Regions from separate parts of the Homo sapiens genome. Here region 2 is linked to region 1. A link means that fine-mapping ties the variant in region 1 to the expression of a gene that starts in the linked region. Tissue or cell type: whole blood. Region 1 holds a variant in brackets; the other region holds the start of a gene. All regions are shown on one strand. Distances are between the middles of the regions.

Region 1 (5,370 bases):
CAAGTTCCTCCTCCTCACAAAGGCAGTCTGTTTTTTTTTTCTTTTTTTTCTTTTTTTCTCCCTCCTCCTCCCTGTCTCTTTGGATGCCAAAGAGTGGGAGGGGCCCAGCGGAGTGGTGGCCAGAGTAACCCCCCGCCATCCCATCAGCTCAGACAAGGGTCAAAGCTTGGGGCCAAGCCCACGGCTCAGGAAGGGTTTGCCAGGCCCCCAGATCCCCTCTCTCTGAGATAGCTGTGAGCACCAGTGTTGGCTGGGGTGAAAGCCGGGTAATTTTCCTCTAAGCTGTCCTCCCTCCGCTCCCCTCCCTGCCTGCTGGTGCTGGCTGTGAGCACGTCTGCATTCCAGAGCTTAGGAGAGAGAGAACCTGCTGCTGTTAAGGTTGAGGAAGTAGATTGCTAACAGCTGCTGTAGGAGGGGTTGGATGTGCGGAAGAGGAGGCCGTGGATTGCAGGCTAACATTTCTTGAGCCTCTTGGCACCTGGCACTCACTACCTCATCTTGTCTCATTTGCATAAAGCCCCAGTAGCCCGGTGAGGAGACAGGCCCAGAGAGGCAAAGAACTTGCCTAAGGTCACACAGGGAGGCAGAGCCAAGGCTAGACCTTGGTCTCCCGGAGGCAGGCAGGTGAGGTTGTATAGAGGTGATGGCACAGGGGATGTTGTTGGGGGGTTAGTGGGCAATGAGACTGCAAGGGCTTGTGGGCCCCATATCACAGAGGACCGAACTCAGGAGTCCTGACTTCTTTCTGTCTGCACCGAGGTCTGCAGAAGGGATGATGCAATCTGTATGAGTGACAGGCCCAGTGCAGAGAGAGTTTAAGGGAGTGAGGGAGCTGATGTTATGATCCCAGGGAAAAGATGGGGACACCAAACCAGGACAGTGGCTGGAGTGTGGGGGTGAGAAGTGGGTATAAAGTGGAGAGGAGATGAGCTTGGTCTCTGCTCTGGTCTCAGCCTTTATGTACTGTCTTGGTGGGATGACCGTGGTTGGGTCCTGCCTCCAAGGGTATCCCAGAGGGTTCTAGAAACTCCCACATGGACAGGCACTTGAAGGATAGTGCTGGTGATTGGGCAGGTGCCTGGATGGAGGTGAGGCCTAAAGCACACCCGGGGACAGAAGGCAGCACCCACACGGGAGCCCAGCTTCGTGCCAGGGACTGTATTTTAGGTGCTGGATCTTGTTTAAATCTTCCGGCTGGCTATGATTATCCTCTAAGCTGGGGAAGGAAGAAAAGCATTCCAGTACTATACCTCTGTTTGGGTTAAAGGAGGGGAAAGTATTTTAAATAAAACCTATTAGAGTTAAAAGGATGAGTAGCAATAAAAATATCTTTGAATCTCTGATGGTTCTATTGTAGTCAAAAGTTTTAGATAAATTGTGAAGAATCTCTAATCATGCTATGTGGAGTTTTTCTCTTTTAAAAAATACAAGTTATTGTATATACTTAAGGTATATAACGCGATGTTATGAATACATTTAGATAGTAAAAAGGTTACTATAGTGCAGCAAATGAACATATTCATCATCTCAGCTGGCACAAAAGTAATTGCAATTTTTGCCATTACTTTCAATGACGAAAACTGCAATACTTTTGCACTGCACTAATAAAATCTGCTCATTTAGCATGAATCCCAAAATACAGTACAACTTATTCCCTATAGTCCTCATGTTGCACATTAGTGCTCTTTTTTATTTTTAAATTTTTATTTTTGTTATTTTTAATATAGAGAGAGACAGGGTCTCACGACATTGTCCAGGTTGGTCTTGAACTCTGGGGCTCAAGTGATCCTCCCTCCTCAGCCTCCCAAAGTGCTGGGATTACAGGCACAAGCTCTCTACACTTGTTCATTCCACGTATCTGCTACCTTGCACCCTCCATATCCTCATTCGTGGATTCAACCAACCACAGATCAGAAATATTAAAAAAAAATAAAAATTAAAAAAAGTAAAAATAATACAAATTTTAAAAACAGTGCAGTGTAACAACTATTTACATAGTTTATTGTTACATAGAAATTTACATTTACATTTTTATGTAACAACTACAGTATAACAACTATGTAAATAGCATTTACATTGTATTAGGTTT[T/C]ATAAGTAATCTAGAGAGATTTAAAGTTTAATACATGGGAGAATATATGTAGGTTGTATGCAAATACTGTACTATGCCATTTTATATATTGGTGTACAGCATCTGCAGATTTTGGTATCTGAGGGAGGTCCTGGAACCAACTGATCCCGCGTGGATAGGGAGGGACAACTATTCTCTGATATGTCTCCCCACTGGACTTTTTTTTTTTTTTTTTTTTGAGTTGGAGTCTTGCTCTGTCACCCAGGCTGGAGTGCAGTGGCGCGATCTCGGCTCACCGCAACCTCCATCTCGTGGGTTCAAGCCATTCTCCTGTCTCAGCCTCCTGAGTAGCTGGGACCACAGATGCCCACCACCATGCCCGGCTAATTTTTTGTATTTTTAGTAGAGATGGGGTTTCACCATGTTAGCCAGGCTGGTCTCGAACTCCTGGCCTCAAGTGATCCACCTGCCTCCGTCTCCCAAAGTGCTGGAATTACAGGTGTGAGCCACTGCACCTGGCCCCCATTGGACTTTTTCTCTAACTGATTTGTACTTGTATCAAGTTCTGGTGAGTCCGTGAGATAATATGGCCATTCTATCCCTGTGGACACTGAAGCTCAGAGAGGTTGTGTCCCTTGCTCAGCATCACTCAGTTGTAAGTGCTAGGACTGGGATCCAGAGCCCTCACTTTTTTGTTTTTGGTTTTTTGCTTTTTTGAGTCAGGGTTTCACTCTGTCACCCAGGCTGGAGTGCAGTGGCACAATCATAACTTACTGTAGCCTCGACTTCCCAGGCTCAAGTGATCCTCCCACCTCAGCCTCCCCAGTAGCTAGAACTACTGGTGCATGTCATCACGCCTGGCTAATTTTTTAATTTTGTGTAGAGACAGGGTCTCACTCTGTTTCCCAGGCTGTTCTCAAACTACTGGGTTTAAGCTATCCTCCTGCCTTGGGCTCCCAAAGTGCTGGGATTACAGGCATGAACCACCATGCCCAGCCAAGAGCCCTTGTTCTTTTGGGTGAGGCAGAACAGGCAAAGTCAGAGAGGAGGGGAGGGGGTGTCATTAGGAGTCTCATGGAGGGGATTGGGTAGCAAGGCTGGCTCTGTAGGTGTTGGCTTGAGGCCCTCTCCTGAGATGCATCCCCATCCCTGGTACCAGCCTTGTTTGGAACCCTCCCTGTCTCCCTTGCTTTGTATGCAAAGACACAGAGGTAGAGGGCTAGGTATGAGGTAGGTATAGGGCAGGTATAGGGGCCAGTGAGCTGTATGTGTGTATAGGGTCTGGACACATGCTGTAGGTCATCTTTGGATGTTATGCTTACTGAGCACCTGCTGTGTGCCAAACACAGTGCCAGGGCTCCTTCAGTCCTACCAGACACCCCACCAGGTTGGCATCTTCACCTCATTTTACAGAGGAGGAAATTGAAGTGCCGCAGAAGGTGCCACTGGCTCAAGTTCCCTGGTGGTAGGGATTTGGGCTCTGTCCAGATTCATCCCTGTACATTGCCTCATATTCCTTAGGTTGGAAGGTCACTTGTCCTCACCCTGTTGGTCATTTTTGGTATCTCCAGCCCACAGAGACTCCGCAGGCACTCCTGGATCCCATTGTCTTTTCCCTCTTCCCCGCACCTGCCCCCTTTTGTCTTTCTCAGGGAGTTCTCCCTGCAGAGTGCCTTTGCGGGGCATGGTCCACGGATCCCTCACATTTATGGTCTCATTTAATCGTCTCAACTAGCCTTCAAGAAAGGCACTTTGACCCCGATTTTCCACATCCAGACAATGGGCTCACACTTCCTGCCAGAGCCCAGCAAGGAGGAAATCTTGGCCATAGTTGGTATGGGAGGCTTGGGGACACAGAAGGGCTTTGTTTGAAGCCAGCAGCAGGAGGGATGTGGCACCATCATCTGATGTGCTGCATCATTCATTGTCCCCATCGGGAAGGTGGTTGGCCTGGGGAAGCTTCCAGCATTCCTGGTAGATCCCAGTGAAGGATGAATCTGATCCCTAGGCAGGCAGGAGGGGACCCTGGCCAGATGCACAAACTTGTTTGCTTTTTGCTGTGTGTCTTTTAGCATCCTTGAGTCCCAGGGCCTGAAGGGTTCTTGGACATGGGCCGATTTTCCTGTCACCTATGTCCCCTCAACCTCATCACCACTGGGCAGCTCATTATCTCTCTGGAAAAGGGGAAGGAAACCAGCATTTGTCTTTCCATTTTTTTTTTTTTAAACTGTGGAAACATACACACATCATAAAATTTGCCATTTAATAGGCCGGGCGCGGTGGTTCACACCTGTAATCCTAGCACTCTGGGAGGCCGAGGAGGGCAGATCACTTGAGGTTAGGAGTTCGAGACCAGCCTGGCCAACGTGGTAAAACCCCGTCTCTACTAAAAATACAAAAATTAGCCAGAAATCACTTGAACCTGGGAGGCGGAGGTGGCAGTGAGCCGAGATCACGCCGCTGCACTCCAGCCTGGGTGACAGAGCGAGACCCCATCTCAAAAAAAAAAAAAAAAAAGAAAGGCATTTTTAACCCTATCTTACATGTAAGGAAATTGAGGCTCAGAGAGATAGAAACTTATCCAAGTCTCTCTTTTAACAATAAAAGCAGCCTCCTTTATATGTGCTTATTCTGTACCAAGCACTGTGCTAAGCCCCAAATGTTCTTTACCTTATTAAATTCACACAACTACCCTAGGAAAAAAGTATTATAATCCCCGTTTTATAGATGAGGAAACGGAGGCTCAGAGAGCCAAAACAACTTGCTCAAAGCCACACTGCTAATAAGTGATAGACCGGGGACTTAAATGCAGGCATTTCTGGTGGGAGCTCTTTCCACGATCACATAACAGAAGGTTGCTCTCTGTTTTTCTCCCTCTTGGAAAGTCCTTCCTCTGCAGAGCAGGAAGCTGCCTCCTGTGGCTTCTCCTGCTCATTCTGGCTTGGGTTGGGGCATTGTAGACCCTGCCTTCCCCTGCAGCTCTGCAGAGCCTGTGACTCTCCAAAGTCTTCTGCTGGTTCCACGGTCCCAGCATCTGCAGCCAGGCCTCCCTGTCTTGTTGTGGATTTGCGTTTGTGCCTGGGCTTCCCAGGGGTGGGTGGTGGGGTGCTGAAGGGGCTAGGACAGTTATTTGCAGCCCTGGCTACTGACCCACCACACCTCTCAGGGCCATTTCCTCCCCGAGAGAAGGGGAGACAGACTGCTGAAGTGGGTCCTAGCAAGAAGGGCCCAGAGCTCATACCCATGGCCAAATCTGGCTGCTTCCAGGACATGGGGTCAGGAAGTAGCAGGGCCAGGCCCCT
Region 2 (5,370 bases), 23 kb before region 1:
ATCCTGCCAGCTATAAAATACACATGTTGAGTCATAAAGCAAAGCACCAGGAGATTTCTAGAAGTGTTCCTAGAGGAGCACTCCCATGTAAGTATTGGTTATCATCATCACAATCATCATCAATCAATCATCATCATCATTATCTTCATTATCATTTCTAATGATTCCTGGTGATACCCTGTTCCCATGTTCCTCTCCAGCCACCAAATGGAGCAATTACAGGGTTATGGGTAGGCATCTGACCCAGCTTAGAATATGGAACCTTAGATCTAGCTTAGAATGTGAACCCTTTTGCTCTCCTGGCCTCAGTTTCTCCATCTCTAAAGGGAGGAGTTGGAGCAGACATTCTCCAATGTTTCCTCCATCGTGATGTGGTATTCTCCAGTTCTATGGGGACACAGATTCAGAGTTCCACCTCCCTTTGTCTGAGAGCAGTTGCTGGGGCTGGAAATGATATGTTAGATAATTCCAAGGCATGTGTATGCCGGGGCTTGTAATCAAAGATTCCAGAGCCAAATAAGCCTGTGTTTTTGCTTTTCTCCCCAGCAGCCTTGCATTGGGCCCCAGGCAGCCTCTGGAGAAAGCAGAGAGTAGCAGAGATGGTGTGAGCCTCCCTGCGGGGTGGATACCTTGCTTGTATTCTCAGAGAAAGTGGAACTGGGCAGAATTTCCCAAGCCAGGAAAGGTGGCAGAGTGTGACATAAGACATTGAGCAAAGAAGCGAGGGCCAAGGACTCAGGCATAGAAGAGTAGACTGCACAGTATCAGTAGTGTGACCTCCAGAGAGTACTTAACCCTTTCTGTGGGCTTGGCCTGCTCATCTGAAAAATACACATGGTAATGCCTCCCTTAGGAGGCCAGGTAGGGAGGTGAGAATTAAAGTCGGTAATACGTGGGAAGCCCAGAGCATGGCATGAGGCATTCAAGAAATGGTTCTTGTATTTACTGGTGTTGAACAAAGAGAGAATGGCAGGAGGAAGAGCCAGGGTGAGATTCCCTGGGTCCTGTGGCTTCCCTGGCTGCTATTCAATGGAAAAACCAGGGAGTGAGCACTGTGCTCTTGGCTTCTGTGCTACTTAAACAACAGCCTTTTCTGCTCTGATCCCCAGCACCCGGCAATTACTGACTCTAGTACATTTTACCTTGTGTTAAGAGGGAGCTTTACCCTGGCTGAACATGGGGCTGCTGCCAGCACCCAGGCTGGGAATGGACATCTCTGTCATGTGGTGCAGTCTCCTGTGGAGTGTGTGAATCCTTCCAAACCGGAGTCACGCGGCAACTCCAAAAGTCCTGGGAACTCATGTGTGCACCAGGACTGCTGGGAGGCCGTCTTATGCCTTGCTGCATTATAAACGGCTATCGTCTCAAATGCATATGAGATGTTGTTGAAATCAACAAAGTATTACATTTGCTTAAAATTGACCTTGCACTCATCTTTCTACCCAATGTGGATTTCCTCAATCTCCTAAAACAGTATCTGCCATGACACTAATAAGAACATCCCTTCCGTTTATGCAGAAGCCACGGTCCCTGTCATTGTGCTGAGAGTCTTTTTCTCACTGAGTCTTCTCAACCGCCCCATGAAGCGGCAATTCAGGATGCCCATTTGACAAACGAGGAAACGGAGACTTAGACATGTGAGCTCGCTTGCCCAAAGTTACAGGACTAGTCGATGTCTGGGGTTCCAAACCAGGCCTTCTGACTCCGAGGCGCCTGCTTAATGGTCCACTTTAAGGACCAGGGATGCACTTGGCATTTTCGTTACTTCATTCGGAATGAGCTGGGAATCGCTCTTCCTCCTTATTCCCTTCCGTGGGAGGGAATCTCCCCTGCTTTGCATGCAGCCTATGTCACTCTTCGAGGGCTTTGCCTCCTGAAGTCCGTTCTCTCCAGGGCTGAAATCTGCCTCCGCTGGTGCTAGTTGAGCATTGCTCGCTTGCCCGTCCCATCTGAGCTCTTTGGCCCCAGCCCAGCTCAGGAGCTGCCCTGGGTCTCCTCCCCGACCCTAGGCCTCTTCAGATCTCCCCTCCGTGCTCCGGGCCTCAGTTTCCTCCAGGGGAAAGCAGAGGGCTTGGTTTGGTGCCTTCCTGCGAGGTGAAGCGAGGGGTCCCCCTGGACGAAGGCGAGCTTGGAGCCACCCGCCCAGCAGCCGACGGGAGGGCCTGGCGCTCCTCCCCCACCCGCCTGCCCGGCCGCCCCGCCCCGAGGGCGGCTCCCGCCCGCGCCCTGCCCACCCCGGCCGCGCGCACCACAACGCCCCCGCCCCGCCGCCCGGAACCAGCTGAGCGCAGCTGGACCCAGCAGCCGCTGTCTCCAGTGCCGCAGCAGCAGGTAGGGGAGGCGCGCGGCCCCGGCCCCGGGCATCTGGGGGTCCCGGGCTGATTTGAGTCCTTCCTCTCCCTTCCTTCCCGGTCCTATCTCGCCCGCGCCTGGAGCTCGGCCCGGCCGCGGGGGCATCGCTGGAAAAGGGCTTCCTCGCTCACTTTTCCCGTCTTCCAAGGGACCAAAGAGTGTGGATGGGAGTTGGGGGATGGGGAGACGCCGGAGCAGGAGAGGAGAGGGGCCAGGCCTCCACCCCGTGATTCCACTGTGCTGCTAGCACCTGAGCTAATAACCTCGACCCCGCCCCCGGGATGGGGGAACTGGCCCGGGGTCACCCCTGCACTTGGGTTGTCTGACCCGGGCATGCAGGGGACCACCAGCTACGGTCTGGGCGGTGACTCTGCTGGGGAGTCCACTCAGAGGACCCTTGCCTCCTGGACGATACCTGTGCCTGCTCTCCTCTCCAGCTGCTTCCTCTTTCTGGGGACTGTTAGAAAGTTCTTCCTTACACTGTCTGAAATCTTCAGGCGCCTGCTACCTGTAGGTGCTGGCTTCTCCCCGGCCCTGCAGTGTTCCCTTCCCTGACTCACACGGAAGCTTCTTCTGGAGTTGAAGACAGTGATTGGAACCCCTTCTCCCTGAGCCCCCATGTCTTCTGGGGTCCAGCCCCCCAGAACCTAAATAACAGCAACTTCCCTCTGGTCCAGTGCAGGCTGGCTGGTCTGGGCAGTGCCCAGGGGGAAGCCCCAGTCCTTGGAAGGCTGGGGGCTGGGGGTGTGGGTGAGCAGGAGACATTGGCTTTCTTCCTAGCTCCTTGTCTGCCCAGACATCTGTCGCTTTATCCTGTCTTCACACCCTCCTCAGAGCATGGAAGGGAGCTTTAAAACACCCAGAACTCATTCTGGGCTGTCCTGAGGGTAATTGGACTTTGTGGAAGGCGGGGCCTCTGGGGAGGTGCCTTTCGCTTTTGTTTGGCATCTGGGGACTTTTCAAACACTTAATCCTGTGTGTCCTGTTCTCCCAGGACCACATTTCTGACCAGGGCACCAGGACCTCTCACCGCTCTGCCGTTTACAGCGACCATAGCTTGCTAGAATCTTACCCCATCTCCATTTCCTCCATTTCACAGTTGAGAAAAGTCAAGGACCCAGAGAGTTTATGATGGGCTAATTGTCACACAGTGAGGCAGGGTAGGGCTGAGACCCAATTCCGGTCTGCCGTTTGCGGACTCCTTGCTGGGAGGGACTCTAGCCTCCTTCTTGGGTGTTCCGTTTACTAAAGGGACAAGCATTCCCTGTACATACACACTTGGGGGTGCTGGTTGGTGTTTCTTGGGGCTGTTAAGGGGGAGAGGCTTGGAAACAGAGGAGGAAGGATGGGGGTGGGAACGGTCGGCTTTCAGCTCCTTTGAAACTCCATTTTTCTTTCTGGGGCCATGCTATTTATAAATGCCAGGGAAATTGTAAACAGCCAGGGGAGCTTGGGTTGGCACTCGGTGAGTTACACAGCAGCAAAGAAGGTTTCTGTGTGAATCAGGGGAGGAAAGTTTACTCCAGAATTTTCCACAGTCCTTTTATTAGGGACTAACATGAGCCTGGAAACAGGCTGCTCCCAGGAGGGGTGGCTGCAGGGTTTGCCCCGCATGGCATTTCCTTCCTCCCCGCCTCCCTCCTTTCAGCACTTCTCTGGGCCTGTGTTCTGTGCCTTGCCCTGCGAGGGGCCAAAGAGCCTTGGAAGAGGACAGAGCTCTCTGTCCTCAAGATGCTTGCCATCTATACTGTTTGACACTTTTGTGCCATATTAAGAGTGACTTCAGCCTGCAAGAGGAGTGACTAATTTTGTCTAGGTGAGCCAGACCTCAGAATGAATAATCATTTACCAGGAGAAACAGGAGTTGGGGGAAAAGACATTCTGGGAAGCAGGAACCACTAGTGCAAAGGCACTGAGATTTTCTGAGCCATCCATGTGGCTAGAGTGGAGGATGGGAGAAGGGCGGGGTGGTGGGAGGTTGAGAATCTAAATGAAAATGGAACTAGATTATAAGCTAAGGGTTTGGACCTCATCCTGAAGGCAATGAAGAGCTGAGAAAGGGTTTTGACAGAGCAGTGATTTTTAAAAACTCGTTATTCTGAATGGCTGATGTAGGGGATGCATTGAACGAGGCTGATCTGGAGGCAGGAAGGCCCTGAGGAGGCTGTTGCATGATTCAAGTGAAGTAGATTGCAGGTCTGAACTAGAGCAGTGGCCACTGGGATGGGTCAGAGCAGCAGATTCTGGAAGCCCAGCTGAAGGTCTCAGAACCTGCTATAAATTTCATCTAAAAGCAGACAACAGGCTAGACCTACTGGAGAAGGTTGCTAAGGTATTCAGCATTGTAACTTTTTTTTCTTTTTCATGAGTTTTAAAACAAACAAAAATTGTTAAAGAATCCCTCCAAGCCCGCCTCTTTCCCCAGAGGTCGCCACTGTTAACAATGGTGTGTGCACTCCTGCCAAACACGTTGATTGGATGCCTTCACTTTTAGCCATCCAGTGACAGTGGGTCACTTTCCCCTACTCCATGTGAATAGTTTGGGTCATTTGTGATGTGGGTCATAGAGATGATTTCTGCTTGGTCTATGGTACGTTGCTGAGACACTGAGCTCTGGTTTTCTTTAAGAAAACTTTTACATCCTGTGTCTGCGGCCTCTGGGTGTGTATATTTGCTTATCAGAGACCACAGGTGTGAGAGAAGTTAGAAGCACTGACTTGGAAATGGACCCCCAGTCTTGGTTCTTTGGGTGACCTTGGGCAAATCCTATCTCTCTGAGCCTCTGGTTCCTCATGTGTAAAATGGAGAGATGTTGGTTTGCATGATAATAATAAAAAGCTATCTTTTAACTGGGCATGGTGGCTCACACCTGCAGTTCCAGCATTTTGGGAGGCCGAGTTGGGTTGATGGCTTAAGCCAGGAGTTTGAGACCAGCCTGGTCAACATGGTGAAACCCTGTCTCTACTGAAAATACGTGCTGGGATGCTCCTGTAATCCTAGCTACTTGGGAGGCTGAGG

The links. PIP is the estimated chance that this variant, and not a neighbour inherited with it, causes the effect. A credible set is the group of variants that fine-mapping cannot tell apart.
Region 2: it holds the start of GSN, and the variant in region 1 is the best candidate, but not a certain one, in a credible set for the expression of GSN in whole blood (INTERVAL, PIP 0.66).

What each region holds. Positions count from the first base shown.
Region 1 is chr9:121,289,131-121,294,500 of GRCh38, forward strand. The region is part of intron 2 of GSN (gelsolin); the gene reads left to right. Among named protein-coding and RNA genes, the nearest start is that of GSN-AS1, 6.3 kb to the left of the region's middle. RefSeq lists an enhancer at 5,259-5,370. The variant T/C (reference allele first, on the strand shown) is at 2,090.
Region 2 is chr9:121,265,889-121,271,258 of GRCh38, forward strand. It overlaps GSN (gelsolin), which reads left to right and starts at 2,274. Exons shown (of 18, transcript NM_198252.3): 1 at 2,274-2,331. RefSeq lists a silencer at 2,162-2,461.